4 separate regions of the Homo sapiens genome follow, and all the other regions are reported to be linked to region 4. Evidence: microRNA targets listed by miRTarBase, many of them from high-throughput screens and not tested one by one. Region 4 holds a microRNA gene; each other region holds the end of a gene's coding sequence.

The links. Region 4 holds the annotated microRNA hsa-miR-222-3p (AGCUACAUCUGGCUACUGGGU, at 2,286-2,306, shown strand). A microRNA usually pairs through its seed, bases 2 to 8, with sites in the 3' UTR of a target mRNA and lowers its output. Matches are read on the target gene's strand: a 7mer-m8 pairs with bases 2 to 8, a 7mer-A1 pairs with bases 2 to 7 and ends in A, and an 8mer does both.
Region 1: miRTarBase lists PHRF1 as a target of hsa-miR-222-3p. The part of its 3' UTR that is shown has no 7-base or 8-base seed match.
Region 2: the mRNA of CLDN23 is a reported target of hsa-miR-222-3p. The part of its 3' UTR that is shown has no 7-base or 8-base seed match.
Region 3: the mRNA of PELI2 is a reported target of hsa-miR-222-3p. The part of its 3' UTR that is shown has no 7-base or 8-base seed match.

The regions. Positions count from the first base shown.
Region 1 is chr11:610,917-618,034 of GRCh38, forward strand. PHRF1 (PHD and ring finger domains 1) reads left to right here. Exons shown (of 18, transcript NM_001286581.2): 17 at 38-166; 18 at 718-1,306. The coding sequence ends at 861. IRF7 (interferon regulatory factor 7) reads right to left here and starts at 5,034. Exons shown (of 11, transcript NM_001572.5): 1 at 4,997-5,034; 2 at 4,429-4,731; 3 at 4,181-4,343; 4 at 3,881-4,091; 5 at 3,560-3,618; 6 at 3,258-3,483; 7 at 3,035-3,121; 8 at 2,869-2,949; 9 at 2,290-2,679; 10 at 2,083-2,201; 11 at 1,639-1,884. The coding sequence starts at 4,448. The coding sequence ends at 1,729. It overlaps CDHR5 (cadherin related family member 5), which reads right to left. Exons shown (of 15, transcript NM_021924.5): 14 at 7,038-7,118; 15 at 5,667-6,854. The coding sequence ends at 6,435. RefSeq lists enhancers at 1,518-2,112, 2,707-3,301, 3,896-4,490.
Region 2 is chr8:8,702,183-8,709,289 of GRCh38, forward strand. CLDN23 (claudin 23) reads left to right here. Exons shown (of 1, transcript NM_194284.3): 1 at 1-1,914. The coding sequence starts at 217. The coding sequence ends at 1,095. Among named protein-coding and RNA genes, the nearest start is that of CLDN23, 3.8 kb to the left of the region's middle. RefSeq lists a silencer at 1-107 and an enhancer at 1-548.
Region 3 is chr14:56,295,726-56,302,843 of GRCh38, reverse strand. PELI2 (pellino E3 ubiquitin protein ligase family member 2) reads right to left here. Exons shown (of 6, transcript NM_021255.3): 6 at 1,320-6,244. The coding sequence ends at 5,678. Among named protein-coding and RNA genes, the nearest start is that of LINC02284, 12 kb to the left of the region's middle. RefSeq lists an enhancer at 5,496-5,995.
Region 4 is chrX:45,742,224-45,749,341 of GRCh38, reverse strand. It overlaps MIR222 (microRNA 222), which reads left to right and starts at 2,218; the gene lies at 2,218-2,327. MIR222HG (miR222/221 cluster host gene) reads left to right here. Exons shown (of 2, transcript NR_170290.1): 2 at 1-4,128. It overlaps MIR221 (microRNA 221), which reads left to right and starts at 3,076; the gene lies at 3,076-3,185.

The DNA.
Region 1 (7,118 bases), not on the chromosome of region 4:
TCCCTTCCTGGCCGCATCACACACATGTCCCCTCTAGTACATGAAGAAGCTGCACATGCAGGAGCGTGCTGTGGAGGAGGTGAAGCTGGCCATCAAGCCCTTCTACCAGAAGAGGGAGGTGACCAAGGAGGAGTACAAGGACATCCTGCGCAAGGCCGTGCAGAAGGTGGGCTGTGTGCGAGCCTGTGTGTGGGGCTCGGGGTCACGGGCGGTACGTCGCTGCTGTCTCGTCAGCATGGACTTTGGGGTGGCCATGAGTGCAGGCCCGAGGTCAGCCAGCCAGGTTAGGGGTCAGGGGGCTGTATTGCCACATCCTGTAGGCCTGGGGTCAAGCCTGTTCGCCTGTGGCTGCCCCTGGCAGATGCTTAGGAAGGAGGGTGCCTCAGTGCACCCTGGGTAATTTAAAACTACCCAGCCCACGCCCAGCTTACAGGTGGGAGAACGACCCCCAGAGGTGAGCAGTTGCCTGGTGACGTCTCAGCCCATGCTCCCCCCGCCCACCGACACCGTGGGACCCTCAGTGGCCTTGTGAGCGGCATAGCGAACAGGACGGGGGTCTCACATAGGTGGGGCGGCCTCTGCCGCCGTCTGTCTGCGTGCTGCACCTAGGGCCTGCTCCTGAGCAGGGCAGGCGAGGGAGCCCAGCTTTGGCCCTGGGCTCTGGCCCGGAACATCTGGATGTGAAAGGGCATTTGGTGATTGCACCTCTTTCTCCAGATCTGCCACAGCAAGAGTGGAGAGATCAACCCCGTGAAGGTGGCCAACCTGGTGAAGGCGTACGTGGACAAGTACAGGCACATGCGCAGGCACAAGAAACCAGAGGCCGGGGAGGAGCCGCCCACGCAGGGGGCCGAGGGCTGAGGCCAGGCAATCACGGGCTATGCCCGGGGAGCTGTCGGGAGTGGCGGGAATCGGGGCCATGCCCGGGGAGCTGTCGGGAGTGGCGGGAATCGGGGCCATGCCCGGGGAGCTGTCGGGAGTGGCGGGAAATGGGGGGCATCACCATGCCTGCCGTCGGGTTCCTGCGCTGACACCTGGTCTGTGCACCTGTGTTGCTCACAGTTGAAAACTGGACACTTTTGTATGTATATTATAGAGACACTGTTTCCATTCTAATTTATCAAAAATGGATTATCTTTAGAAACCTCTTGATTGACTTACTACTTGGAAGATAAAGCACTTGGTGATCAAGAGGGGCTCCTGGTGGGGTGGCGCGTCCTTGATAAATCTCTAGGTGGCCTCCCGCCAACAGCTGCTGTGTACCTTTGGCTCTGAATTAGGAATATCTTTACTTTCTCTTTTCCAATTATGTTGTGCTCTTGTAAATAATTGCTCGAGTTTGCACTCAACACCGTTGCCTCCTGGAGGCAGGGTGCAGCAGTGGCAGCCTGAGGGCTGGCGACAGGTGTCCTGCATGGGGAAATGCTGTCCCTGCCCTTGGCACAGCTGGTGGGAGTGGCTTTGGCGGCCACTGGCCTGTCAAGGGTCTTGTTCTTTGAGTCAAAGCTTGGCTGTGATGTGTGTGGTGAAGACAGAAGTGAGTTGGTGTGCAGGGAGGCCGTGGAGGTCCCCTCCCTCCCTGGGCCTCACCCGTGTTCAGCCTGGACCCAATTCCCCACCAGCCAAGATGCCAGTACGTGTTCTGGAGTTCTTTTTATTAGACTGGGCGGCCGCGGCCAGCTCTAGGTGGGCTGCTCCAGCTTTCTGGAGTTCTCATTAGACTGGGTTCTAGGCGGGCTGCTCCAGCTCCATAAGGAAGCACTCGATGTCGTCATAGAGGCTGTTGGCGCTGGACAGGCAGAGGCTGAGGCTGCTGCTATCCAGGGAAGACACACCCTCACGCTGCGTGCCCTCTAGGTGCACTCGGCACAGCCAGGGTTCCAGCTGCCAGGAGGGATCGGGCGTCTGTCAGTGACCCGGCGTGTGTCCTCCCCTCCCCCTCCCCAGGCTCTGAGGGCGTCGGGCGTCTGTCAGTGACCCGGTGTATGGCCTCCCCTCCCCCTCTCCGAGGCTCTGAGGGCATCAGGCGTCTGTCAGTGGGCCTGAGCACATGGCCTCCCCTCCTTGAGGCTCTGGTCTCACCTTCACCAGGACCAGGCTCTTCTCCTTGGGCCTCCCAGCTGACAGGTCCTGCCCGAAGCCCAGGTAGATGGTATAGCGTGGGGAGCCACGGCGCTGCCGTGCCCGGAATTCCACCAGCTCTGAAGAAGGGGACTCTGCTGAGTACCTGGCAGGCAGGTGCTCCCAAGGACCCCTGGAGACAGCCCCCCAGGCAAGGGCCTCACTGACCTTGGAAGAAGACTCTGAAGTCGAAGATGGGGGTGTCACAGTTCCGAGGCAGCAGGCAGGCTGGGGTGGAGGGGCTGGCGGAGCCTGGGGGTCCGCCCACCTCCCAGTACACCTTGCACTTGCCCATGCGCCGGGCCCACAGCTGTGGCCCCCGAAGCTCCAGGTGCAACCCAGGGGCCACGTGCCGCAGCAGTTCCTCCGTGTAGCGCAGCTGCTTCTGGTCCGGGAGCTCGGCAGGGCTGGGGAATGCTACCTGCTGGGGGTCTGTGGCCCGGACAGCTGGGTCTGGGGGGCCGTATAGGAACGTGCAGCTCGGGTGTCCCACCACCTTCTGCAGCACCGTGCGGCCCTTGTACATGATGGTCACGTCCAGCGCCCCTGGGCTGGGCTCTGTGTGGAGACCAAGCTGTGAGTGACGGGGGTGGGCGGGGACAGGCTGTGAGTGACGGGGGTGGGCGGGGACAGGATGTGAGTGACGGGGGTGGGCGGGGACAGGATGTGAGTGATGGGTGGGCGGGGACAAGCCGTGAGTGACGGGGGTGGGCGGGGACAGGCTGCCCCTTCCTGGGATGCACTCACCTTGCACCGCGGTGCAGGCGCTTGGGGAGGGTGACAGGTACGGCTCTGCCTGGTGCGGGGACTCTGGGGCCGCGGCCTCGCCTGCATCCGGAAGGGAATCCTGTGCTGGCACCTCATCCCTAGCCTCTCCCTGTGCCCCAGGCCTCCCAACCCCTACCCCTCTCACCTGTCGTTAGTGCCGCGGGCTGGGGCCCGGGGCTGGGGGTCGTCTCTACTGCCCACCCGTACAGCTCCCCAGCAGGGAGCCCTGGGCCTGAGGAGGGGAGGACAGTGGGAACGGTGGTCCCCTCCTAATTCTCCAGCTCCCCAATCCCCAGCCCCCTTCTAAAGTGTCCGTCCAGGTGCACTGGCCCCTCCCGCGCTCCCCCCCTCCCCGGGCACGCCCACACCTCCAGCACAGGCCCCAGTCAGGGGAAGCCCTTCTTGTCCCTCTCCAGGAGCCTTGGTTGGGACTGGATCTGCCCCCCATGACGCTGTCAGCAGATGGTCTGCCAGGCAGCTCTGTTGCACTGCCTGGAGCAGGAGGTCCCCCTTGTCACCAGCTGGGGCAGGGAGGGGGCCTGGGGCTTGGAGTCCAGCATGTGTGTGTGCCAGGAATGGCCCTGGGGGCCCACCCTGCAGGGAAAAGTCAGGGTGAACGTAAGCAGCTCCGCGGCCTGGCAGGAGGAGAGGCAGGCAGAGAGAAGGGTACCTGTGGTGGTGGGACAGCTGCGGGGGCCTCTGCCTCAGTCTGGTCCGTGCCTGGGCCTTCTGAGAGAGAATGGGGCAGGCGTTAGGCCCCGACACCAGAGTGAGAGATACAAGGAGAGCCTGGTGTAGCCCCCACCAGCTTCCTGGCTGTGAACCCTTAGGCTGTGGCCTGAGGAGGTGGGGATGTGGCTCTCCACCTGTCCTGGGCCTGCTGGCAGCCTCTCCCAGAACAGCTTCTAAAACCACAAATCTGACCCAGAGAATGTTCCCCTTTGCCCAAGCAGGACGAATGCCAACGCCCTTGGCAGCCGGCGTCGCTCACCTCGCCAGCACAGCTCCCGGCTGAGCGCGTACACCTTGTGCGGGTCGGCCGGGTCCCCCGAGTTATCCCGCAGCATCACGAAGCGACGCGTGCTGCGCAGTGCGCAGCGGAAGTTGGTTTTCCAGCCGGCGCGCTCCGCAGTCTCAGCCTCGGGGGGCGGGCCACCTCCCCTGCTGCTAGGCGGCCACCTGCCGCGGGCCACAGCCCAGGCCTGAAGAGGGGGACAGAACACGTGTGCCGGGCCCGCGGGGTCCTAGGCGGGCTCTCCCACCCGGGGCGGGGCGGGGCTGGGGTCCCCACCTTGAAGATGCGCGCGTCGGCCTCGCTCAGGTCCTTGCGCGCGAAGTGCTTCCAGGGCACGCGGAAACAGGTGCGGGCCTCGTCCAGCCACTGCAGCCCCTCATAGCAGCCGCTGCTGATCTCTCCAAGGAGCCACTCTCCGAACAGCACGCGTGGGGCTGCCCTGCGGGTGCCCGGCCGCGGAGAGTCAGGGCCGGCTGCAGGGCGCTCGGGGACTGGCATCTGGAGAGGGTGGGCCGGGCTCTTACCTCTCAGGAGCCAAGGCCATTGCTCCTTCTGCAGGGGCAGTTAGGTGGCGGTCAGGTGTTATAACAGGGGAGGTAAGGGCTCCTGTCGCAGCAGACGCCAGGCCGCGGCCACAGGTCGTGTGGCCAGGTGTCACAGGTGTCCACAGGTGTGGACTGAGGGCTTGTAGCCACCGACGCTGCCTCGGTATGGATCTCTTGGCAGAGGGGGCTACAGGTGTGACTGCAGGTGTGGCCGGCGCGCACACATGAAGTCACAGGTGTTGAACCAGTGTCCAGGCCTGGCGGGAAGGCGCAGGCCGGACCCTGCGGAGACGGGAAAGGCGACGTCAGGGGCGGGTCAGGCTCCCGGGAAAGCGAAACCTAAACAGTGGCGCTTCGCACCCTCCTCGATCCCACCCCGTCCGGTTCTCAGCTCCGCGGAACCCCGCCTCCGCCTCCGCCTCCCTCCCCGCCCGACCCTCATCTCTCAGGCTCCCCCAGCTCTTGGCTCTACCCCTCCGGGGTCACGGAGCCCCCACGGAGGCTCTCGCTCCCGGCCTGCACCGCGTGGGTCTGGGGTCCCCAGTACCTGGGTGCCAGAGCCGCCGGGACGGGAAGTTTCGTCTCGCGGGGAAGCGGAGGGCCGGCGCTTTTATGGTGGCCAGGCGGGAGTTTCCGGGAAGGGCGCGCGCCGCCTGTTCTTATTATTGGATGCGACCAGCGGAACCCCGCCCCGGCCAGCGCGGAGTAGGGAGGAGTGGAGGGCGTTGGGAGTGGCTGCAGTGAGCCGAGATGGAGCCACTCCACTACAGCCCAGGGGACAGAGCAAGACTCAGTCTCAAAAAAAAAAGGAAGTGGGTAATGGGAGGTGGACGTGCCTCGAAAAAGGGGCAGCTGCACCGTTTGCGTTTCTTTTTTTGAGATGGAGTTTCGCTTTTGTTACCCAGGCTGGAGTGCGGTGGCACAATCTTGGCCCACCACAACCTCCGCCTCCCGGGTTCAAGTGATTCTCCTACCTAAGCCTCCCGAGTAGCTGGGATTACAGGCATGAACCACCACGCCCGGCTAATTTTGTATTTTTAGTAGAGACGGGGTTTCTCTATGTTGGTCAGGCTGGTGTCGAACTCCCGACCTCAGGTGATCTGCCCACCTCGGCCTCCCAAAGTGCTGGGATTTAGGCGAGAGCCGCCGTGCGCAGCCCCCTTTGGGTTTTTTACATTGTTCAGTCAAGAATATCAGATACTCTCACAATTAAAACATTTGGAAAGGAATTAATGGTGTATTTCCATTAGGGAAAGTGCTGACAAGCCGCAAGGGATCCCTTGATGGTTCTGGGCATGGGCGCCCAGCCTGGGCTCTGGCTTTGGGAGCAGCGAGGGGAATGTGTCTCTCACCCCTAGGCCTCCTGGTCTGGCTCCTGCTCAGGCCACACGGCGCACCCACCCCCAGCGCGCCTCAGTCCAGGTCACTGGGCAGGGTGTTTACTGCTGCGCTCCAACCCAAGCATGTAGATTTCAGAAGGGGACTAGGACCCCCGGCAGGTGTTTGAGACCACCGGCTCCCAAGTGCGTCGCCTTGGGGGTTTGCATCGGCTCCTCAGCCTCCCCAGGCAATCTCTGTGTAGGGTCGGGAGCGGGAGGTCTGAGATGAGCCGGGTGCCTGAGATCTCCGGTGCAGGTCGGGGGAGGGGAGCCCCCCTCGGGCTGTGGTTAGAGCGGGAGAGGAACTTCCCAGACTAGCTGGCACAGAGCCTCGGGAAGGCGGCGGGCACTGCAGGTGGTTTACGGGAAGTGCTGCAGCCTTGGGGTGGGGACAGCGTGGCCAGACCCACCGCCTCATCTGCACACCTGGGCTCAAGCGCTAATGACGACAGGGGACTGAGTGAATGGGACCCCCATGGACCCGCGCGCCTGCCCCACGCCATGGCCTGGGTTTCGGGAGCCTTGCTTTATTCTGCCTCGGGTCGGAGGCTGGGGGAGCGAGACCTCCAGTGCCCGTGCGGCTGGGGGAGAGGGTGGAGGGGCCACTTAGATGTAGGAGTCATCACCACCGGGCGCATCGTAGGGACCCCCACCCCTCCCCGCGCCCTCGCCCTCATCGCCGCTGCCGGAGTCACTGGCGCCATCCACGTCCAGGGTGGGCGCGTTGAGAACGACCACGTCTGCCTCCGTCCCGATGTCCTCGCCAAACCAGACAGCCTTGTACCCGCCCTCCGGCCGCCGCTCCTTGGTCAGGATGGACCTCACCGCCGTGGGGCTTCCGCCAGCTCGGGCCGCTGCGGGGGGCTCAGGGGCACCGCCTGGGGAGGCAGGGCCGGGGGGTGCGGGCTCTGCGGGCATCGGTGCCTCCGCGGGCTTGGGGTCGTGCGTGGGGCTGGGGACGGGCGCCCAGTTGGCCTTGTGGTCAGGGAGGAACGCCTGGTTGTCAAAGCCTTGGGGCTGGGGCTCCTGCAGGCGGGAGTCGAGGCGTCAGCGGGGTCCCTGGGTCTCTGCAGCCTTGGCCCTGCACACCCTCATTCCACGCTGGACACCCCTCCGTCTCCACATCTGTCCCTCTGCCCTCCCCTCTCCTGTCCCCCGTCCCCCACTTCCTGCCTGGTCGCCTGCCCTGTTCTCCATCCTGGGCCTCACCGGAGCTTTGCCACAGCAGCACTTGAGCCGGGGGCCATAGTGCTTGTGGACAAGGACGGCGAGGCCAAGGAGAGCCAGCAG
Region 2 (7,107 bases), not on the chromosome of region 4:
GAGGGAACTAGCCTAAGTGGGGACGGTCCCCGTGCAGGAGACAAAGAGCGTCCCTGGAGCGATCAGGGCTCAGGAGCCCGACCCGGAGCCCGGGGCGTCCGCGCTGACTTCGGGTCCCCGGAGCCTGGGGCACGGCAGGGAGAAGACGACGGCGGAGAAGGCGACAGCGGAGAAGGAAGGCAGGCTGCAGGGGCGCCGTCGGCGCGGCGGGCCGGGATGCGGACGCCGGTGGTGATGACGCTGGGCATGGTGTTGGCGCCCTGCGGGCTCCTGCTCAACCTGACCGGCACCCTGGCGCCCGGCTGGCGGCTGGTGAAGGGCTTCCTGAACCAGCCAGTGGACGTGGAGTTGTACCAGGGCCTGTGGGACATGTGTCGCGAGCAGAGCAGCCGCGAGCGCGAGTGCGGCCAGACGGACCAGTGGGGCTACTTCGAGGCCCAGCCCGTGCTGGTGGCGCGGGCACTCATGGTCACCTCGCTGGCCGCCACGGTCCTGGGGCTTCTGCTGGCGTCGCTGGGCGTGCGCTGCTGGCAGGACGAGCCCAACTTCGTGCTGGCAGGGCTCTCGGGCGTCGTGCTCTTCGTCGCTGGCCTCCTCGGCCTCATCCCGGTGTCCTGGTACAACCACTTCTTGGGGGACCGCGACGTGCTGCCCGCCCCGGCCAGCCCGGTCACGGTGCAGGTCAGCTACAGCCTGGTCCTGGGCTACCTGGGCAGCTGCCTCCTGCTGCTGGGCGGCTTCTCGCTGGCGCTCAGCTTCGCGCCCTGGTGCGACGAGCGTTGTCGCCGCCGCCGCAAGGGACCCTCCGCCGGGCCTCGCCGCAGCAGCGTCAGCACCATCCAAGTGGAGTGGCCCGAGCCCGACCTGGCGCCCGCCATCAAGTACTACAGCGACGGCCAGCACCGACCGCCGCCTGCCCAGCACCGCAAGCCCAAGCCCAAGCCCAAGGTCGGCTTCCCCATGCCGCGGCCGCGGCCCAAGGCCTACACCAACTCGGTGGACGTCCTCGACGGGGAGGGGTGGGAGTCCCAGGACGCTCCCTCGTGCAGCACCCACCCCTGCGACAGCTCGCTGCCCTGCGACTCCGACCTCTAGACGCTTGTAGAGCCTGGGGGGCGCCGGGTGGCAAAGGACTCACCCCCGCACAGGCCCGCCTGGCTTCGAGTTGGAACCCGGACACTTGCCCCTCACTGGTGTGGATGGAAATCTGCCTTTCGTGGGACCAAACAGGACTCCTTGGACGATTAGTTCAGGTTGGGTTTGGTTTTCTTCTTAAAGAGTTTAGTTTTCCTCTCCAGAGGGATCAGGGTCCTCTTAGGGAGTGACGGGCTTTTCATATATTTTTGCTGAAGAATATATGGAAAGGGTGGCATTTGCGTCACGTGGACCAGGGACAGTGCTGAAATCAGCAGTGCTCAGAAACAATTTAACATGTTGAAACGACAATATTCTAAAATACTGATGAATCTTGCATCAATATAATTATTGGGTTTTTTTTCTTTTTCCTGCTGTATAACTCCTTGCCATGCAAACTCTCAAGAGGCCAATATATTCCTGGCCATGTTTGAATGAGCCTCTTAAAATAAACTTAGAGCCATGCAAATGCCAGCAGCTTAATGGATTTCATGGAATGAAATACCGTGATTAACTCATAGCTACATATCATTGCATAAATGGGATTTATCTTTTTTCTCACTTATTTTTGCGGTGAAAGTCGAGGGCATGCAAGAGTTTCTCTTCCAGAAGCCAAGAGGAGAACAAAGGTCCTAATGCTGTACTATTCCACCCTTTGGACGCCTCATCCAGGACGCAGAGGACTCTAGGTTTAACATTTTGTACAAAATGGAACCTGTTAATCATATTAAAGCACATATGTATATATCTTTTATTTATAAATAAAATTTTAAAACAATAGTTTCAGTATAGCCACAAAAGCTCTTTTGTCTTCAGTACAACGTTTGGGAGTTTAAACATTCATTACTAACAATTTCCTGGCTGCCTCGGCACTTGTGTCTGAAATCTAGCACTCAAATCTTTGCACCTCTTAGCATAAGGTTACTAAAAAAAGCCAACGGGCCCCACTTAAGTCCCTGATTGCTTTGGTTTTAGGTTCATGCCATTTCTGTGCAAAGCCAAGTCTATTGCTGAGAAAACGAGAAGCACCAGTTTCCACTTGAGGTGAGACTGGAAATCTTTTCCTTTGTAGCAGTGGTGTTTAGAATCACAGGAAGGCAGCTATGTGTTCCATGAAGGGGACTGGGTCTCCAGCAGGGCTGGCTTCAATTCCAAGTGGTTGATTTAAGGGTACCTTTAACCGAACTGAATCTCTTCTTTAAAACCTGCCGTTCAGAGGTAGGAACATTCATTCAGTTCAGCAAGCACTGATAATAGCTATAGTGAGGCTAACTTAATAGCACATGCTGCCTGTTAGAGTGGAAGGGATGACAGAGATTCACTTCCCTTGCCATTTGGTACTGGAATCACTTCTTTCTCTCTTTCTGAAGCCAGGCTTTAACGTGTAGGCGGTATCACTTTGGAATCTCTTTCAAATGCAGATTCTGATTCAGTAGATCTGGAGTGAGGCCCTGAAAAGATTTCCTAACTGGCTTCCAGGAGATGCCAATGCTGCCGGCTCATGGACCACACTTGGAGTTGCAAGGCTTTCGCTGGGACTGTCTCACTCAAATTTCAATCCCAACTGGTGGCTCATATTCAGACCTTTGAGTGCCTGCTACCGAGATGCGCTTGGGGACTTGCTCGAGGGTACAGAGCCAAAAGGGAGAAAGTGCAACAGGGCTCTTTTCCACTAACACCTCCGAAGGCAGCAATTAGGGACCTGAGAAGTCAGCACCTAGCAGACACCGTACAGGTACTGGGCTCCTGGCAAATGGTGAGTCTGGGCTGCATCATAATTCTATCTCCAGGGAAGCTTTGGTAAAAACACACAAAACTTTTGTGTGTTTTGCTTTTCTCCCCATCCCAATGATTCTCCACTGCCTTATATGCAAAACATTTCCTGCCTGAGGATTAGGATTCGGTTGCTGGGAGTTAAAACTCTACTTTTCCCCTATCAAGAGAACGAAGCCAAAACTCCTCCTTTAAAAATACAAACTCCTTTTTGCTATAGAAATATTCAAGACAGCCTGTAATCCCAGTGCTTTGGGAGGCCAAGTGGAAGGAATGCTTTGAGGCCAGGAGTTCGAGACCAGCCTGGGCAACATAGCTAGACCCCATGTCTACAAAAAAATTTTTAAAAGTTAGTCAGGCATAGTGGCAACATGTCTAGAGTCCTAGCTACTTAGGAGGCTGAGGCAGCAGGATCACTTGAGCCCAGGAGTTCAAGGCAGTAGTGAACTAAAAGCACATCACTGCATTCCAGCCTGGGCAACAGAGCGAGACTGTCTCTTAAATTAAAAAAAAAAAAAAAAAAAAAAAAAAAAAAAAACGGGCATGATGGCTCATGCCTGTAACCCCAGCACTTTGGGAGGCCGAGGTGGGCCCATCACGAGGTCAGGAAATCGAGACCATCCTGGCTAACATGGTGAAACCCCGTCTCTACTAAAAATACAAAAAATTAGCCGGGCATGGTGGCGTGCGCCTGTAGTCCCAGCTACTCGGGAGGCTGAGGCAGGAGAATGGCGTGAACCCGGGAGGCGGAGCTTGCAGTGAACCGAGATGGTGCCACTGCACTCCAGCCTGGGTGACAGAGCGAGACTCTGTCTCAAAGAAAAAAAAAAAAAAAAGGTTCAGGAGAGCATGGAAAGAGAGTCCTGCATCAGTCTGGGATCCACGTTTGCCCTGCGGGTCATTCTCTGCCACAGCAAGTCTCAGGAGTTGCTGCTGTGGGCAAGAATTTATCCTAAACTTTTCCTAAACTTACCACTGACCAGCCCAGCAACTGCACCACAGAGAACACACTCAAAGCACTTCTGTCTTGTATCAAGCCCTCTGACCTACCAGACTCATGTTTAATCCTCCCAATCCCCAAAGGAAGTATAAGTCCCCATTGAATGGATGAAGTCTTTTCTAGATTACTCAAGTGATGCCAGGAGGACGGTGAGTTCTGTGAAGGTAAGGCAGAAACTGCTTTAACACATCCCTGCTCTACCCGTTCGCCAATCTGGCTCTTATCTGGACACACGCCCTCACCAAGGAGGGGTGTGGCTTTGAGCACACAGCTGGTTCTCCACCGTGGAGGCTGCGGGAGGTGCTGTCAGGGTGCTTTGGCAACCATCCTTCCCTTCATTGTGTAGATCGTTCACCCAGTATGTTTTTGAGCGTCTGACATTTTGCCAGCACATTTGTGGGCACCATGAAAAACAATACCATCCAGGCCCATTCTGTGTGGAACTTAAATAATCTCCTGTGATCATGTACAAATAAAATGAAAAAGATTAAGCCAGAAATCAAGGGATGGAGGAAGAAAGGTGTTTTTTGTTTTTGTTTTGTTTTTGGGAGACAGGGTCTCACTCTGTCACCCAGGCTAAAGTGCAGTGACATGATCAGGGCTCACTGCAGCCTCAACCTCCCAACCTCAGTGGATCCTCCAGCCTCAGCCTTCCAAGTAGCTGGGACCACAGATATGCATCACATCACCCAGCTAATTTTTTTTTTTTTTAAACAGACAGAATCTCACTATGTCACCCAGGCTGGTCTCGAACTCCTGAGCTCAAGTGATCCTCTCACCTTGGCCTCCCAAAGTGCTGGAATTAGAGGTGAAAGCTCCCACACCTGGCCAAAGGTGATATTTTAGGAAAAGTGGTCAAGAAGAAGGAGGTACTTGGGCAGAGAACTGAAAGAAGAGAGAGAGGAGCCTTTTAGGCAGAAGGAACAACTTCAAGTTTCCACTAGAGAAAATGTGAAAACAGGTGGGCGTCTCAGTCTTACTACCAGCTAGTTTTGCTTCTCTTTCTAGAATCGGGTGGTAAGGCCAAGAAGCAGCTGGTGGTACAACGGAGTAACCCTGAGTCAACCTTGTCATCTACTCTTTGCCAGGCTAACAGATTCTTTCAGAGGGAATACCATCTGGAACAAATTCACCCTGTCTTCTAGAATATTTCCATAAGCAGACAGGGAGGGTCTCTGGGGATTCTAGGAATTTAATCAACTTGAGCAATCAGCCTGTTTTGCAGCCTCGTGCCCTGCAGTCTGTTTCTTCCTAGACCCTGCGTGGTCACCCAGCAGGTTAAAGCAGCTCCTGACAGGCCCCAACAACTTTTAGATGAATTCGGTGAACTTTCCTCATGGCCATTCTATAGTCTCCACCCCAGGGGAAGAGCAGCTTCAGCAGCAACCACATGCGACCTATGTGCTGGCATGAGGACTCACTGCATTGGTGCCACTGGGACCCCTCCTCGGCATGCGACGCAGTCCCTCCTGTCTCCATTACCCCTTAAAACCCTCCTGTCACATTCCCTCTGGGAGACACTGCTTTGGAGAATAATCCCAGTGCCCCTCTTCCTTGTGCCAAGTAATAAAACTCCTATTGATCACACACCTGCGTTCTCAAGGAGCGTGGTTTGTTATTCATCGGACCAACAAACCCTGATTTTGGGGGGGTAACATTTCCAGAATCAAAAATAAGCAATTTCTTTTTTTTTTTTTTTTTTTTTTTGACAGGGTCTCCCTCTGTCACCCAGGCTGGAGTGTAGTGGCATGATCTTGGCTCACTGCAGCTTTAATCTCCCAGGTTCAAGCGATTCTCCCACCTCAGCCTCCCAAGTAGCTGGGACCACAAGCACACACCACCACGCCTGGCTAATTTTTTGCATTTTTTGTAGAGAGTGTGTTTCTCCATGTTGCCCAGACTGGTCTCGAACTCCTGAGCTCAGGAGATCCACCTGCCTCAGCCTCCCAAAATGCTGGGATTACAGGCGTGAGCCACCATGTAAGCAAAAAATAAGCAACTTCATGTGTGAATAGTCCTCCACTAAGCAGGACTGAACACATGAAAATGAGGTTTCATTTGTTCAAATCAAGGAAAATATAGACAGAGCTTAGCAGGGGGGACAGTGCTGACAAGGGGACTTGATTCTTCAGTGGCACATGGAGAGAATGGCTTAAGACTTGATTGAACCCATTTAACTCTTGTCCTACTGGTGGCCCAAGTTATACCAAGGCGCTGACAAGGTGAGCCAGCAGCCCCTCTTGTAAAGCAATGTGACCAATAAGCTGGGTTGAGAGCCTGGGAAGCCAGGAGATGCCTTTCACAGGTACCAAATGACTCTCCATTGTTTTGCATAGAGAAAGTGACATGGAGCCTGAGGCCACTGACACTTCTCCCCCACCACCATGTTTGCTATTCACAGTGGCTCCCAAAGAGCTGCTCTCACCACGGGGCTGAGGGAGGCTAGACAAGATCACTGCAATTTTTCTAGAACTTTGATGATACCTGTCTCCCAAGAGGGTAAGCCTTGCCCTTGCTGGGCTTCTGTTTCCTCATCCATTAAACTGGGAAGAATGAATTAGATATTTTCAAAGGGCCTCTCTAAATTTATTCTGAGGGTGGCAGTTAAGAATTAAAGGAGGCTGAGAGGAGAGAAGTAAAATTTGAACAGTGGAGCCTGAGGAAGCTGAATGATGTGTAAAATTTTTTTAATAATAATTTTTTTTAACTTCCAGGGTACATGTGCAGGATGTGCAGGTTTGTTACACAGGCAAACGTGTGCCATGGTGCTTTGCTGCACAAACCAACTCGTCACCTAGGTATTAAGCCCAGTACGCATTAGCTCTTTTCCCTAATGCTCTCCTCCCACCATCCTCCTCCAAAACATCCCAGGGAGTGTTGTTTCCCTCCCTGTGTCCAGGTGTTCTCGTTGTTCAGCTCCCACTTATGAGTGAGAATATGCAGTGCTTGGTTTTCTGTTCCTGTGTTAGTTTGCTAAAAATAATGGCTTCCAGCTTCATCCATGTCCCTGCAAAGGACATGATCTCATTCCTTTTTATGCCTGCATAGTATTCCGTGTTGTATATGTACCACATTTTCTTTATCCGGTCTATCATGCGCATTTGGGTTGATTCCATGTCTTTGCTATTGTGAATAGTGCTGCAATGAACATACATGTGTATGTATCTTTAAAATAGAATGACTTATATTCCTTTGGGTAC
Region 3 (7,118 bases), not on the chromosome of region 4:
CACCAACAATTTATGAGTGTATTTCAACATCCATGCCAACATTCATTATTGTCTTTTTGACTTTAGCCATCCTAGTGGGTATAACGTGGTATTGTGTGGTTTTAATTTGCACTTCCCTGATGGCTAATTGTCGAGCCATGTTTTTATGTGCTTACTGGCCATTTAATACATTCTTTGGAAAATGTTCTGAAAAGTTATAAACTTTTGATCGTCTTTTAAAGAGGTTGCATTTTGATGAGTTGTAAGAGCCTGTTACATATTTTGGACCCAAGTTCCTTATCAAATATATAATCCCTAAATATTTTCTATTTTGTGAGTTGTCTTTTTACTCTCTTGACAGCGTCCTTCCATGCACAAAACTTTAATTTTGATGAAACCCAATGTTATATATTTTTTCTATTTTTTTCTTGAGACGGAGTTTCGCTCGTCGCCCATGCTGGAGTGCATGGTGCGGTCTCGGCTCACTGCAACCTCTGCCTCCAAGGTTCAAGCGATTCTCCAGCCTCAGCTTCCCAAGCAGCTGGAATTACAGGCGCCCATCACCACGCCCAATTTTTGTATTTTTAGCAGAGACGGGGTTTCACCATGCTGGCCAGGCTGGTCTTGAACTCCTGACCTCAAGTGATCTGCCTGCTTCGGCCTCCCAAAGTGCTGGGATTACAAGCGTGAGCCATTGTGCCTGGCCTTTTTTCTTTTGTTGCTTGTGTTTTTACGTTTGGTATGTCAAAAATCACTGACAAATCTAAGGTTACAAAGGTTTACATTATGTTTTCAAAGGTTTACATTATGTTTTCTTCTAAGAGTTCTATAGTTGTAGCTCTTTGACCCATTTTGATTTAATGTTTGTATGCTGTGTGAGGTGTATTCCTTGCCCAATGGAATGTAACTTACAATTATAACCAGTTGTGATTTTCTATAACACATCTCACAATTCGTGGCATCTTAGATTTGACAAAGTATGGAACACTTATCCCCTGAAATAAAAGCCTATATAAATGTGCATTTTTTTTCTGGAAATGAAAAATCTGTTTCTCTCAATAATACTAAAACTCTTTGAATATCAATGTGATGAGAACAAAATTTGTCATAAATATATACATTTTCTTATGATAGATATATTAGTTTAAGGCTTCAAGGAAGGCTTGAAGGCTTATACACAATCCTTATTATGTTGTTAAAAGTGAATGAAGACTGTCACAAGAGCAGCAATATGGCTGAAATGATCATGACAAAAATCCATTAATTCTACAAGTCAGGTTAAATTCCCCTGGAAGTTAACTTTATTTGACAGTGATGTAATGTCACGAGAAATAGTAATATAGGCACCAAGGAAATTTCTTTAATTAAAAAATGTAGGGGATTTTCAGAATCAAGGTTTAAATATGTATTGTGCAGAATATAAAACAATTAATAAACTCAACAGCTGGAGATTAACTTGGAAGTTAGAGAAGTGAAAAAAATCAGTTCTACTCGTATCAACCTACTAAATGTCCTAATGAACTCAGTGACAACCACAGAATCTGAAGACAATGGCTCACAAACAGGCTGATATCCATTTAATAGTTTTTGAAGATTTTTTCCTGTAAAATGGCTTGTATTTCCACAGGTACAATAGTGAAGAAATAAACTTTTCAATTTGACATGAAATATAAAACAACAATTTTACAAACATATTCATAAAATTTAACTGCTAATAACACAATACATGGTAAATGTGACCATCCCCTTAACTTCTAGACTATTTAATACAGAGAAGCAATCTGTCATCTCAGCTAAAAAGAAACATCTTTCCTTTCATTGAGTTTATTTTTGTTTGTTTAGAAACTGTCAAGCAAAACTGGAAAATACTTATTTTCCTTATCTTCCTCTAGGGATTCTTCATGAGGGCAAAGACTTATTTGAAAGGATGTAAGTTATACTAAAAAGAAAATACTGAACCTTTTTTTTGTGTTACTGCTTCAATGATGCTTAGATTATTTTAAAAAGATGCTGAAGTCGTCTCATTGGTCGCACAGAAGGAGGCGCATCATAACCTAAGCCACAAAGGCTAAACTACTGGGACAGAAGATTGACAGTAAAGGGATGGAGATGGATTTGGCTTAAAATCAAAGTCCTGTGGTTTGTCTATCAGAAATTCCACTGTTATGAGGCAAGGCTGCAAGAAGATAGTTTTTACCCAGCATTAACAATGGTGTAATCACACACCCTTTCAAGCACATCCAAAGAACAGAATGGCTTTAAAAAAGAAAAGAAGTGAAACAAAACCATAGAACTGCAGGTAACAATTCTACAACCTATATTACACTTCAATTAAGCAGAAAACTCTCGTAAGTGTCCACACAATACTGAGCTCCCAAATAACAGAGGTTTGAGTTTTTCCATGAAAAAAAAAAAAAAGACATTGAAGCTTTATGAACTAAAGAGTTCTCCTCAAGTTTCCCAATACAGTAAATGTAATAACTTAAAATAATTTCCCTATTGGTACTGGAAAATAAATTCTACTACAATCATGTTTATGCCAGTTTCTGACATATTTCTGCATCCAGATTCATTAGTCTCCTTAATGGAGCCCATCATTTTTCCAATGGCTTTCTCCTTTCTTTAAACCCTAACCCTGAAATTCTATAACCAGTTATATCACGTGGCTTCCCTGAGGCACAAAGGTACCAAAGTCTATAATTAACTATCGAGGAATGATAAATATGTTCTCTATTTATATTAACAGATTTTAATTCTTTTGGGCCACAGTTGGGAGAAAAAAATCCAGAAACCTTAATACTCTGCAGGGTGAACTGTAGCCCTTTTTGCTAAAAGCTGAACCAAATAAGGGAAATGTTGAGAGTTGCAGCATGCATGACCCGGCAGCACCGATTATTAATAAAAAATTCCGGACTAGAAAAATACTCAGAGTTGTACTCCATCCACTCTGAATCTTTTTTTTTGTAGTAAACGACATAAACAACTGAAAAATATTTCTATGGGAATACATCACTGGGACTTTTACTTCTGGAAAGCTACTTGCAAAAGGCATTAGAGTCAGGCCAAGACAACTAATTGGTCTGCAATTTCCTTGTGTATACACATGGGGGAGTGGGGCTAGTCCTTTAAAGTGATGGCAAGACATAAAAAAAGAAGTGACCTTGGAGAAATTACTTTTCTGAATTGCGTTTCTCCACCTTGGTGAGCTACAGAGTTCTTTATTTTCACAAACTAACTCAACTGTGAAAAAAAAAATCTCCTTAGTCAAAATTGTAAAGGGATCTTCCTACAAGTGGCCAAGAAGAGCCTGGTGTCCTTTTTGCTGATTTGCCACCTCTCTGCAGTTCCTTAGGCAGGGTGGGCGGGACCTGACTTTGGAAGCCAAAGGAAAAGATGTGGAGCCCATGGAGGGCGGTTCACTGTTACCCCTTCCAAGAGCTTGGAAATTATTTCCCAAATTTCAACTTATATTTAAGCTGAATTTACTAAAAGTCAGAAACTTTTAGTTAGACATATGCCCAACTACGGGACGTGTCCAACTTGGAAGGTAACTTCATTTTGGGGGATATGTCACGTTGCAGAATGACTAGACTTATAAACAGGACTTGAAATGGAAAATTATGATATACCTAACTCTCTGGAAAAATATCTTTTTTTCTTGGTAGGTAAAATCTGGCCTTTCTGGATGCAAGACCATTTAGCTTACAAGATGGTTTTAGGGCATCAAGAATCCTTCAACCACTTTCTAGGCATACAGCAAGAAAAGAGAACGAGTGCCTCCTTTGTCATTCTTTGGGGCCCAAAGAATTACAGGCTGAAAAGACATACTCTATCAGTGAAAGCTAATCATCAGAGACTCTGGCTAAATCAAAAGGCATTCAATATATTATTCTAGGCAAGTCCATTTTTTTCTTTCATTTTCTGTCTGCAGGTAGAGTAAGCTATACAGAATACAGCAAGCTATCTGTAAGAGGACTGTTGTCATCGATTTTCACACCATTTAAAATTTACCCAAACAAAACCAAAACCAAAAATGTCTCATCCTAAACAATGATCTCCACTGAAAAATAAAGCTATATTAAAACTGAGAGGCTGAACTTTAAACATATTACATCAAATTAAGCAGCAGCAATCAAGAGTAATATTATCGTATCACTTTAAGGAAAAGCGTATTCAAATAGGTTAGAACGACTGAAAATAGGCAAAATATTTGCCAGTAGGCAAAATACGAAAAAACCAATTCAAGTATGGATATAGTACATTAGAATCATATAAATTACGTATATGTACAAAGGTTAAAAAAAAGTCACCCAAATCTGCAATGGTCAAATTAAGAGAACATTAGTTTAAATAAATACTTATTTTATCTCAGCCAGCTTCTACCAGTCTCATGTCCTAAAGGATCTTTACCTTCTAGGAGCAGTGATACGATCGATGCCAAGCATCCAAGAATTATTAATCAAAATGAAATGAAAGTAACAGGAATGGTGGAGCTCCTATGAAATTCTCATTTAATTATTCCTCAGCAACACTCATTTGCTCTCTCAAAAGCAGGAATTTTGAATTATCTCTGCAGATGTACCACTTGGTGTTGTGTATATCTAATCATCCCACTTAAATTTAGTTTGATTCGCAAACATTTTCAAAACTTACTGGGCTCCTTAAGCTGCAAGGGAAGGTGACAGATGGTGAAAAGGGAGTGCACAACAATGACTATATCATTGTGATTGGTTGGCTTTCTTAACAAAGGAAAAAAAAAAACCCCAAGCTTTATGAAACCTCAAGTGGTTTTAAAAAGTAAAAGCTTATTTTTAATCATTCTTAAATCTTAATTCAGTCAGCAAATAAACATGGTAGTATAGTACCCAGACCATGTCTACTACTGTAATTACCCTCAGTTAATGAGTTTTTAAGAGCTGATGTATTTTAATCAACCAAACAGTTCTGGCCGTGCAAGATGAGTATCGGGGCAAATCATATTAGGCAGAAATAACAAAAGACAGGCTAAAAAGTTATGGAAAATTGTTTGTGAAGTCCCATGTATTTGATGAATGAATATCTAAAGTAAATTCCACTGAAGTTAAAAAAAAAAAAAGCCCACAAGTTATGAATATTCTCTCCCCCAACAAGTCAGAAAAATAAATCAGAAAAAGCCCCAGATTTCAAAACCACCTGTGCCTAAGGCCATCTGTCCACCAGTCACACTGTACAGAGCCGCCCCTCTGCTGTCTGGTCAGGTTTGAGCCACGATCAAGTATTTCTAGACACTGTGCGCCCTTCGCGTAACACCTACACCACACTGCACTGAAGTGAACTTCATGAGCCCACACTTTTGAATAAATTTCTTCTACATCTGTAAAATATGATTTAAAGTCTTGTCCAAGATTACAAAAAAAAAAAAACTTGGTTAAAAACCCAAGGTTAAAAATAGAAGCATAGCATTTTAAATCCAATTATTACAAAGATATTATGGTTTAATCAAGCAGACTTCAATGACGACGCTGCTGTTTTGAGCATGCAACACACCACTGGTATCTGTTACACTCCTGCCATGTTTCATCACCATGTCCCCTCTCTTTATTTCCAGCCCCTGTCACCCTCCTCTGATAAACAGCATTACAAAAAGGTAAAATCTAGAGTTAGTGGCAAAATCTTCACAGTAACCTGTTAATAAAGTCGTAGATGGCTGTCAAGGGCGTCAGTCAATTGGACCTTGGAAAATTAATTTGATGCAGTTTTGCTCCCCAACCAGCTGTGTAGCACAGAAAGGGCAAGCAGCGTGAAATGCATGAGTTCCATGAGGCAACGGGATCTGAGACCAGTATTTTGCAGACTTCTCCGAGCACACGTGTCCACAGGGAGTGAAAGCATGAGTTGGCGGTCCTGCGTCTACATAAAATCCTGCCTCACAGCCAAGCCAGAGAGGCACATAGGGGCCCACAGTCCTGCACATGGGACACTCCCTCTCGTTGGCCTCCGTGTCACTCCGATGGCCCCAGTTGTGGTACCCGTGCACGTGGCCACAACTGAGATATGCCCAGGGCTGCTTCTCCTCCACCACCTCTTTCCTGTTGATGCTGGGGAAGGCCAGGGTGTTGAGCCCCACAGGACACTGAGGCCGGGCGGCGTTAATCTCCTGCCGGAGGGCTTCTATGTGCTTCTGAGTTGGAGTATGAAAAAGCCCATCTGCTGTTCTCCAGAGGAGAGTGGCCCCACACAGGTCAATGAGGGAGCCGTCCTGCAGGACGTTGGTCTCACTTTCCACCTACAACAAGTTTGAGACACATGCCTTTTAAAAGCAAAATCAAGCAAATCACTCCAAGATTCTTTCCTCTCAGAACAAGCAAAAAAATATTTGAAGATAACACAGGGAAGCAATTTATCCCACAAAAACAGAACTGGGGGAGTAACCTATCCTCCCCGAGCCTCATCTTCCTCATCTGATCACTGGATATGATACATATATGCCGTATGTACAAAGCCCTGAGCACAGTATGTATACCTAGCTTTACATGTTCAATTACTGTAGTGGTTATTTTAATGAACTTCACAAATCTCCTAAGATTTTCTTTTTAACTCCTTAAGTCAGTAACACAATGACTCACTGATCCCATAGGATGAGAGATGTCCTACCAGTCCATCCAGTGGAGACTCATCCTCATCTTGATGACAGCCAATCCAGAAGATCTTGCGGGGGGCCTGCAGTCATTACTGGAGGGTCCAAAGCACTCCTGGTGACCCTTAGCTTCCTCCACCTTGAATCTATCTTTCATCATTCATTTTTAAGGTTTGAAGCTAAACAGTTCAACATGAGCCTTCATTTTTAGAAGGAGGCCTGTGCTATGCACTAAGTGCTTATAAGACTGATTAACAGCTGACAAGCAGCAGCTAGGCGTGGTCAGCAAGAACGTGACCGCTGCCTCCACATGCCAGATGCATGCTAAGCCTTGGAGGTACCAAAGGCCAATAAAACCTCTTCCCCATCCTGCTGAGACTTGCTCTTCAGTAGTGGAAGGCAGACATGCCCAGAGCTCAGAGTGCATGAAGGCCAGTAAAGCACTGTTCAAGGCCACAAATTTATAGCAGCCAGGAGTGTGGACTCTGGGTTTGAACCCTGGCTCTCCCACTTATTAGCTGTA
Region 4 (7,118 bases):
TAGATAACAGAATTATATAACTCAACATTTCTAGTTTGAACCTATTTCTTTTCTTTTCCTTTTATTTTTAAACTGAAAATGCATTATTGGTTAATATTCTATGGTGTTATATATTCTACATATTCTATTCTTTGTGTTTTTAATAAACTTAAAACTGTATAGTATTGTTTAGTGGTTGACACTAATTTACAGAATAACCTTTAATAAAATTTTATTTACAGATTTTCCTATTTGTATTACCTAGATTAAATTTAAAACAAGGGGCAAAAGACCACCTTAACTTTAGTACTAAGATGTGGAGAATAGATACCTTTGAGAATTAAAAATTTACCTTTTCTCATCTAAATGTAAAGATTTATAAAAGATAATCTTTTGTATTTTGGCATTGAAAGTGACCACACTAAACCCTTGCCTCACTTTAATTGTTAGTCTTATTCATAAAAGTAGAGTTATGAACAGTTAGTTTTAGTGGTTTATGAAATGTAAGTTTGTGTGTTCTACAAATGCTTTATTTTACATTGAGGGTAAGACTTAGCCAAACCTATATAAACGGTCTTTTCCCCCACTTCAGTATGTATGCTCTGGTTTGTAGGCAGTGCCAAAATATACTTCATAGATGGGATTGGCCTTAACTTATTTAAAGAGAAAAAAAAGCAAGCAATCAAAAAAACCCCTGCTTCACCTTGTAAATTCCACCCTTATCCTCCCCCACCAAGAGCTAACCACACTGGTGAAGCACTATTACTATAATTTGGCAAGTGAGTTGCCTCTTAAAATTAGACATCTGTGATTAAATAGTTAAATCATTCCCTAGATATGTATATATTTAGAGCTCCCAGAAAGCTGGTTATCTTTTCTTATAGCTAACACATTTTTAAAAAGCCACTTTTCTCTTGGTGATAAATATGTGTGTGTCATACTGTGGTATAGCTGCATGTCCGATCAAATGGTACTAGTTTCCAATTGACAGTAGCTTTATTAAATCTTTTCTAAGTGATAGCTGAAGCATTTTAAATTCACAGCAAAGGATTCTAAGACGTGTACTTGGAGAAAAGTTGCATAGTCATTTACCTTCTAGAATAATCCTAAAAGTAGGAAACAATAATTGGCCATGTGGTCATGTGCTAATAAAAGAACACCTTGTCCAAGATACCAGGCTTTTTCCTGTTTCAGTGCTTTTTGTTCTGACTCTTGCCTCTCCCTGTGGTGTCCTTTCCCACCCCAGGTATGTACATGATTCTTCTCCTCCTACTTCAGGAATCCACTCAAATGCCAGGCCCTCAGTGAGGCTTTTCCTAGCCACCTTATCGAAAATAGCATTCCTCTTAACTGTTTCATTACTCTATGAAATGACCGTCCATATCTATGGAGGTTTTTTTCAGTCTTTTTCTACCCTTTCCTTAAATCTTAGACTTAAACTTCCGTGAGTGCAAGGATTTTGTTCAGTGTTGCATTCCCAGTGCCTGGAATAAAGCACGCAGAAGTATTTCAGTAAGGTACTGAAAGGTACTTATTGAAGGTACTCAGTAAGTATTTCTGGGGTGGATAAATGAATAGCAAAGAGAACACCAATCCTGTGACTTATTTTGTTACCTTCATTGTATCATGGGAGGAAAGCTTGGAACTGACATGCTAGTGAGCACCTGCTTTGAATATTTATTATAATATGCATTTTCTGTAATTTTCTTTGGTGTTTGAGATATTTGGTAAAATAACTGTATTATCCTCAGTTCGTAACACGAAAGAATTTTTTAACTGCAATTTACTTTACATATGTGCATCATTGCTAGATTACCCAAGTTAAAGTGACAGGAAGCAACAAAAATGCTCCAAGCCACAATAAAATGGTAGATTGGTTTTTTGTTTGCTTGTTTGTTTTTCTCTTGTGTATATTTCCATTTTACTGCAAAACATACCAAATAATTGATTGTAGATTTTGTCACAAGGAATCATGTATGCTGTAGAAGTATAGAGATTTTCCACTTTTTTTGTTTGCTGCTGGATCTCCAGCACCTAAGAAAATATGTGGCACTTTATTTAATGTCACTCAGTCAGTATCTGTTGGATAAGTAAATAAATCCAGAGGTTGTTTAAAATTACGTACATGGGAATATTGTCAAAATGTCAATTCATGATCCAAAGAAAATGTGCAATTGAAATCTGATATCTTCTTTTTTCTTCCACAGAGCCCCTCCCCAGAAGGCAAAGGATCACCCAGCTGCTGGAAGGTGTAGGTACCCTCAATGGCTCAGTAGCCAGTGTAGATCCTGTCTTTCGTAATCAGCAGCTACATCTGGCTACTGGGTCTCTGATGGCATCTTCTAGCTTCTGCTTCAGTGTCCTGAGAGAGATTATTGGGCAGTCTTTAATAATGAAAACTTTACCTTGAATTACACACACACACACACACACACACACACACACACACACACACTCACACACACACTCACACACACACAAAGAGAGAGAGAGAGAGAGAGAGAGAGAGACAGAGAGAGAGGAGAGAGTCAAGTTCTAGGGTGTTAAGTCCAACATTATCAGCTGGGGCTTGGGAACCTTCAAGGTTTTATGAATGATGAGGTCTATTTGCTTTCAATACTACAAGGGGGAGGAATCTGGATATTTATCCATGTTTTAGCTCTTACCTGTTTTTGTTTTACCTCTTTTTTTCTCTTTCCCCCCTATGAAAGGTATCATTTGGATAGATCAATCTATTCATCTATCTACCTACCTACCTATCTACCCCTACCCATCCACCCATTTATCCATCCACCCATCCATCCATCCATCCACCCACCTGCCCACGTACCTACCAGTTTATCTATCCGACCTTCCTTCCATCCAGCTTTTTCATCTCTTGACTTTTAGATGGCATTTTCAACATGATGTCATGATTAAATGATGACAACTTGATGATATGATGGTTTAAGGAAATTTTGTTGGTAGTAGGTAAGTCCCAGCATTTCTGACTGTTGGTTTTCTTTTCCTTGTGGTAGAAAAGACAAATGCCAATTTTGAAATCTTGAATGCAGTAGGCAGTTGTGTTGAAATAGTATGTGAGAATTACTTGCAAGCTGAACATCCAGGTCTGGGGCATGAACCTGGCATACAATGTAGATTTCTGTGTTCGTTAGGCAACAGCTACATTGTCTGCTGGGTTTCAGGCTACCTGGAAACATGTTCTCCATTGGCTGTCTCACCAATGCTACCCCTATAATGTTTCTGAATAACTGTTTTCCAGGAGGTATAAACCAGTGGAGTTTATCATTGAATAGAGTGCAGAGAAAGGACCGCAAGAAAGCTGATCACCTCAGCAATGAATGATTTCAATACGATTTCACCCAAATGGTCTCACACACCAGCCTAGTAAACCAGAGATAAGGTGTAATGTCATCCTTCCTTCCTTCTCCCTGCCTCAACTGTCAAAGATTGACAACTTACATGTTGTTTACTTTTTGGCTTCTATTTCTGTTCATAATTATTATCAGAAGGCATAGCACCCACAAGCCTAATCATACTGCCTTACAACCTTATTCCTCTTCATTTTGTCTTCTCACTTACCTGCAGAAACCCAGTTTATTTTTGTTCTCCCTTTACCACACCAGCCTTGTAACTGTTATGAATGACCCTCAATCTCACTGGAATCTGAATCACTCAGGAATTCAAGCAAACTGGATGTTTTAACCACTGTTCAGCTTTCTTATGGAATGACAGAGAACTTGTAAAGATAAAACACCAGTTTGCAGGAAGAAAGGAAGAGAATGGAAATTGCTTCTGGAAAATACTAGTTTTACAATATGTTTTGTTTGTCTGCTCTCTTAAATAAACTTAATCCTATAAACATTTTTTAAGAACTAGCCATTAAGACTGTTAAGTTCTCAATTATAAAGGAATAAAATGTTTTAAGGAGGATTTATTTGCCCTTGCTTATATGAACTGCATATTTTTAGTAGGAAATCATGTAATTTAAATTAGTATTGGTTAACAGATTTAACGTAGAAAATGGACATATAAAGAATACAAGGATAAATGTCTACATGTAATAATGGATGGTAGTGATATAATGCATTTTTGTCATCCCATGCTGAATTCAGTAAAAATAAAGCTAATGACTTGGAGCTTTTAAAAGATTGTACTGTTCTCTGTGTGTGTCTTTTGGCTTCCTACTCACCAATCAGTTCTATTATCTATTCTGTACCTGAGCCACTGGCTTTTGTGACCCGGGAAGAGAAAGTAATTCCACTTAAGACGTTTGACAGGCTTTTAAGAGAAATAAGTGGCTCTGTGCAACATGGTTATGTTTAATAAATCATAATTACCAAAGGGACAGTTTCTCTTCTCCCATGTCCACTCATACTTTTTTTTTTTTTTTTTTAAAGAGATGAGTTCTCATTCTGTCATTCAGGCTGGAGTGCACTGGTACAGAACTCTTGGGCTCAAGTGATCCTCTCGCCTCAGCCTCCAAAAGTGCTGGGATTACAGGCTTGAACCACCATGCCCAGTCCTCCACTCCTTACTTCTGATGTTCTTTGAGTCCCTTTGCCTATCATTAAATGAGAAGGTGTTGACAGTGGTGCCAGGTGTGAAGAACTCCCTAATTCCATTGATAAGTTTACATTTCCCTCTCAGGTACAAGTATTGGGTTGATCCTCAAAGCAAGATTGAATGTTGTGATAATATAATAAGAAAAAGACATATTTGGTCTTCACCCTCAGTTCCTGGAACAGAGCTGCTAAAACTGTCATAATTTTCTAACTAATAGAGGTGATAGCATCTTTTGTTAAAGTATTTGGTCTTAGTCCCCTGTTCCTGACACAAGAGCTTCTAAGATCCTTGGACTCTCTGGAGTGATGAGTGTCTTTCTGTATGCTAACAAGATAATGAGATGACTTGGCTTAGCGGGGAGTAGAGGTGGTGGCAAGTTAGCTTCAGGATGAAGGCTGGTTGTCAGAAAGACCAAGGTATGATTAGAGGGTTGGAGCTTTCAACATTCAATCCCACCCCTGACCTCTGACAACTGAGTTGATCACTGTCTTAGTCCATTCATGCTGGTATAACAAAGTACCCGCGACTGGGTAATTTATAATGAACAGTAATTTATTTTCTTATAGTCCTAGAAGCTGGGAAGTCCAAGGCCAAGGCCTTGGCACTCAGTGTTGGGTGAGGGCCTTCTTACTGCTTCTTCATATGATGATGAACGGGCAAAAAGAAGATGAATGCTGTGTCTTCACATAGGAGAAGAGAAAGAACACACTCCGTCAAGCCCCTTTTAAAGAGCCTAATCCCATCAGTGAGGCCTCTTCCCTTGTAACCTAATCACCTCTTAAAGCCTGTACCTCTTAATACTATCACACTGATGACTAAGGTTCAACATATGAACTTCGGAGGACACAATCAGACCATAGTGTCTGGCTCCTGGCCCCCCAAATTTATGTTCTTACGTATGAAATATATTCATTCCATCTCAGTAGCCCCAGAGATCTTAACTTGTTCCAGCATCAACTCAAAAGTCTAGAATCTCATGTAAATCAGATATGAGTGAGACTGAAGGTAAGGTTCATTCTGAGACAAATTGCTTTTGTGCTGTGAACCTATAAGGTCAAACAAGTTATATACTTCCAAAATACAATGGTGGAACAACCATAGGATAGACATTTCCATTCCAAAACAAAGCAATAGGAAAGAAAGAAGGAATAACAGGTCCTAAGTAAGTGCTAAAACCAACAAGGTAAACAACATTAAATCTTAAGGCTTGAGAATAATCTAGACACACTGGAGTGGAGGTTAAGCCCCCAAGGCCATAGGGGGCCTCAGCCCCATGGTTTTGTTGGGCATATTCTATACAGCACCTCGCAAGTTGGAGTTGGGTGTCTGCAGCTCTCCCAGGCTAGGATCACACTCCAGTGGCTCTGCAGTACTGGAGTCTCAGAGGCAGTCCCAATCTTATGGCTACCCTGGGCATTGTCCCACTGGGGAGTCTGGTGGCACTATCCCTGTCTCAGTTCTCTGTGTTGGTCCTGAGGCTCTCCAAGTCATCCATTGAAACCTACGTGGAATTAGTCATTCCTCCACAGCTCTTGCGCTCTGTGTGTCTGCAGAGTTATAATGTGGACACTGGGGGCACTAGCCACACCTAGGCATAACCACAGCTGAGGTGGGTGAGGAGTGCTACACTGGAGTAAATGGAGCAGAGATGAGGCATCACTGGGCAGTGAACGCAGAGGTTCTTCGGTTACCCTAAGCCCCTAGTTTTAGTTATGTGCCCCAGGCCTTGGCACTCCGGGCTTGTCATGAGAAAGGCAGCACCAATAGTCTCTGATATGCCTTCAGGGTGTTTTTTGTTTTGTTTTGTTTTGTTTTGAGACAAAGTCTCACTCTGTCACCCAGGCTGGAGTGCAGCGGGACGATCTCAGCTCACTGCAACCTCCACCTCCCAGGTTCAAGTGGTTCTCCCACCTCACCCTCTCCAGCAGCTGGGATTACAGGTGTGCACCACCACCCAGCTAATTTTTGTATTTTTAGTAGCGATGGGGTTTCACCGTGTTCAGGGTCACTTTTCATTGTCTTGATGAACAGTGTATGACTTTCTTCTATCCATACTAATCTCCTTGCAAATGGTCACTTCTTCACACCCCTGGTGTTTTCTTCCAAATGCTTTTGCACTTGGCCAGGCTGAGAATGTTCCAAACCTTTAAATTCTGCTTCCCCTTTGATTTTATTATTTATTATTATTTGAGACAGGTTCTTGCTGTGTTGCCCAGGCTGGAGTGCAGTGGTGAGATTTTAGCCCTCTGCAGCCTTGACCACCCAGGCTTAAGTGATCCTCCCACCTCAGCTTCCCGAGTAGCTGGGAGTACAGGCATGTGCCACCACACCTGGCTAATTTTTTGTATTTTTGGTAGAGACAGGGTTTCACCATGTTGCCCAGGCTGGTCTCAAACTCCTGAGCTCAATAGATCCACCCACCCTTGGCCTCACAAAGTGCTGGAATTACAGGCATGAGCCACCATGCCTGGCCACTCCTCTGAGTTTAAATTCCATCTTCACTATATTTCTCTCCTGCATTTTACTATAAGCAGTTAAGAGAAGCCATGCAGTACCCTGAACACCTTGCTCAA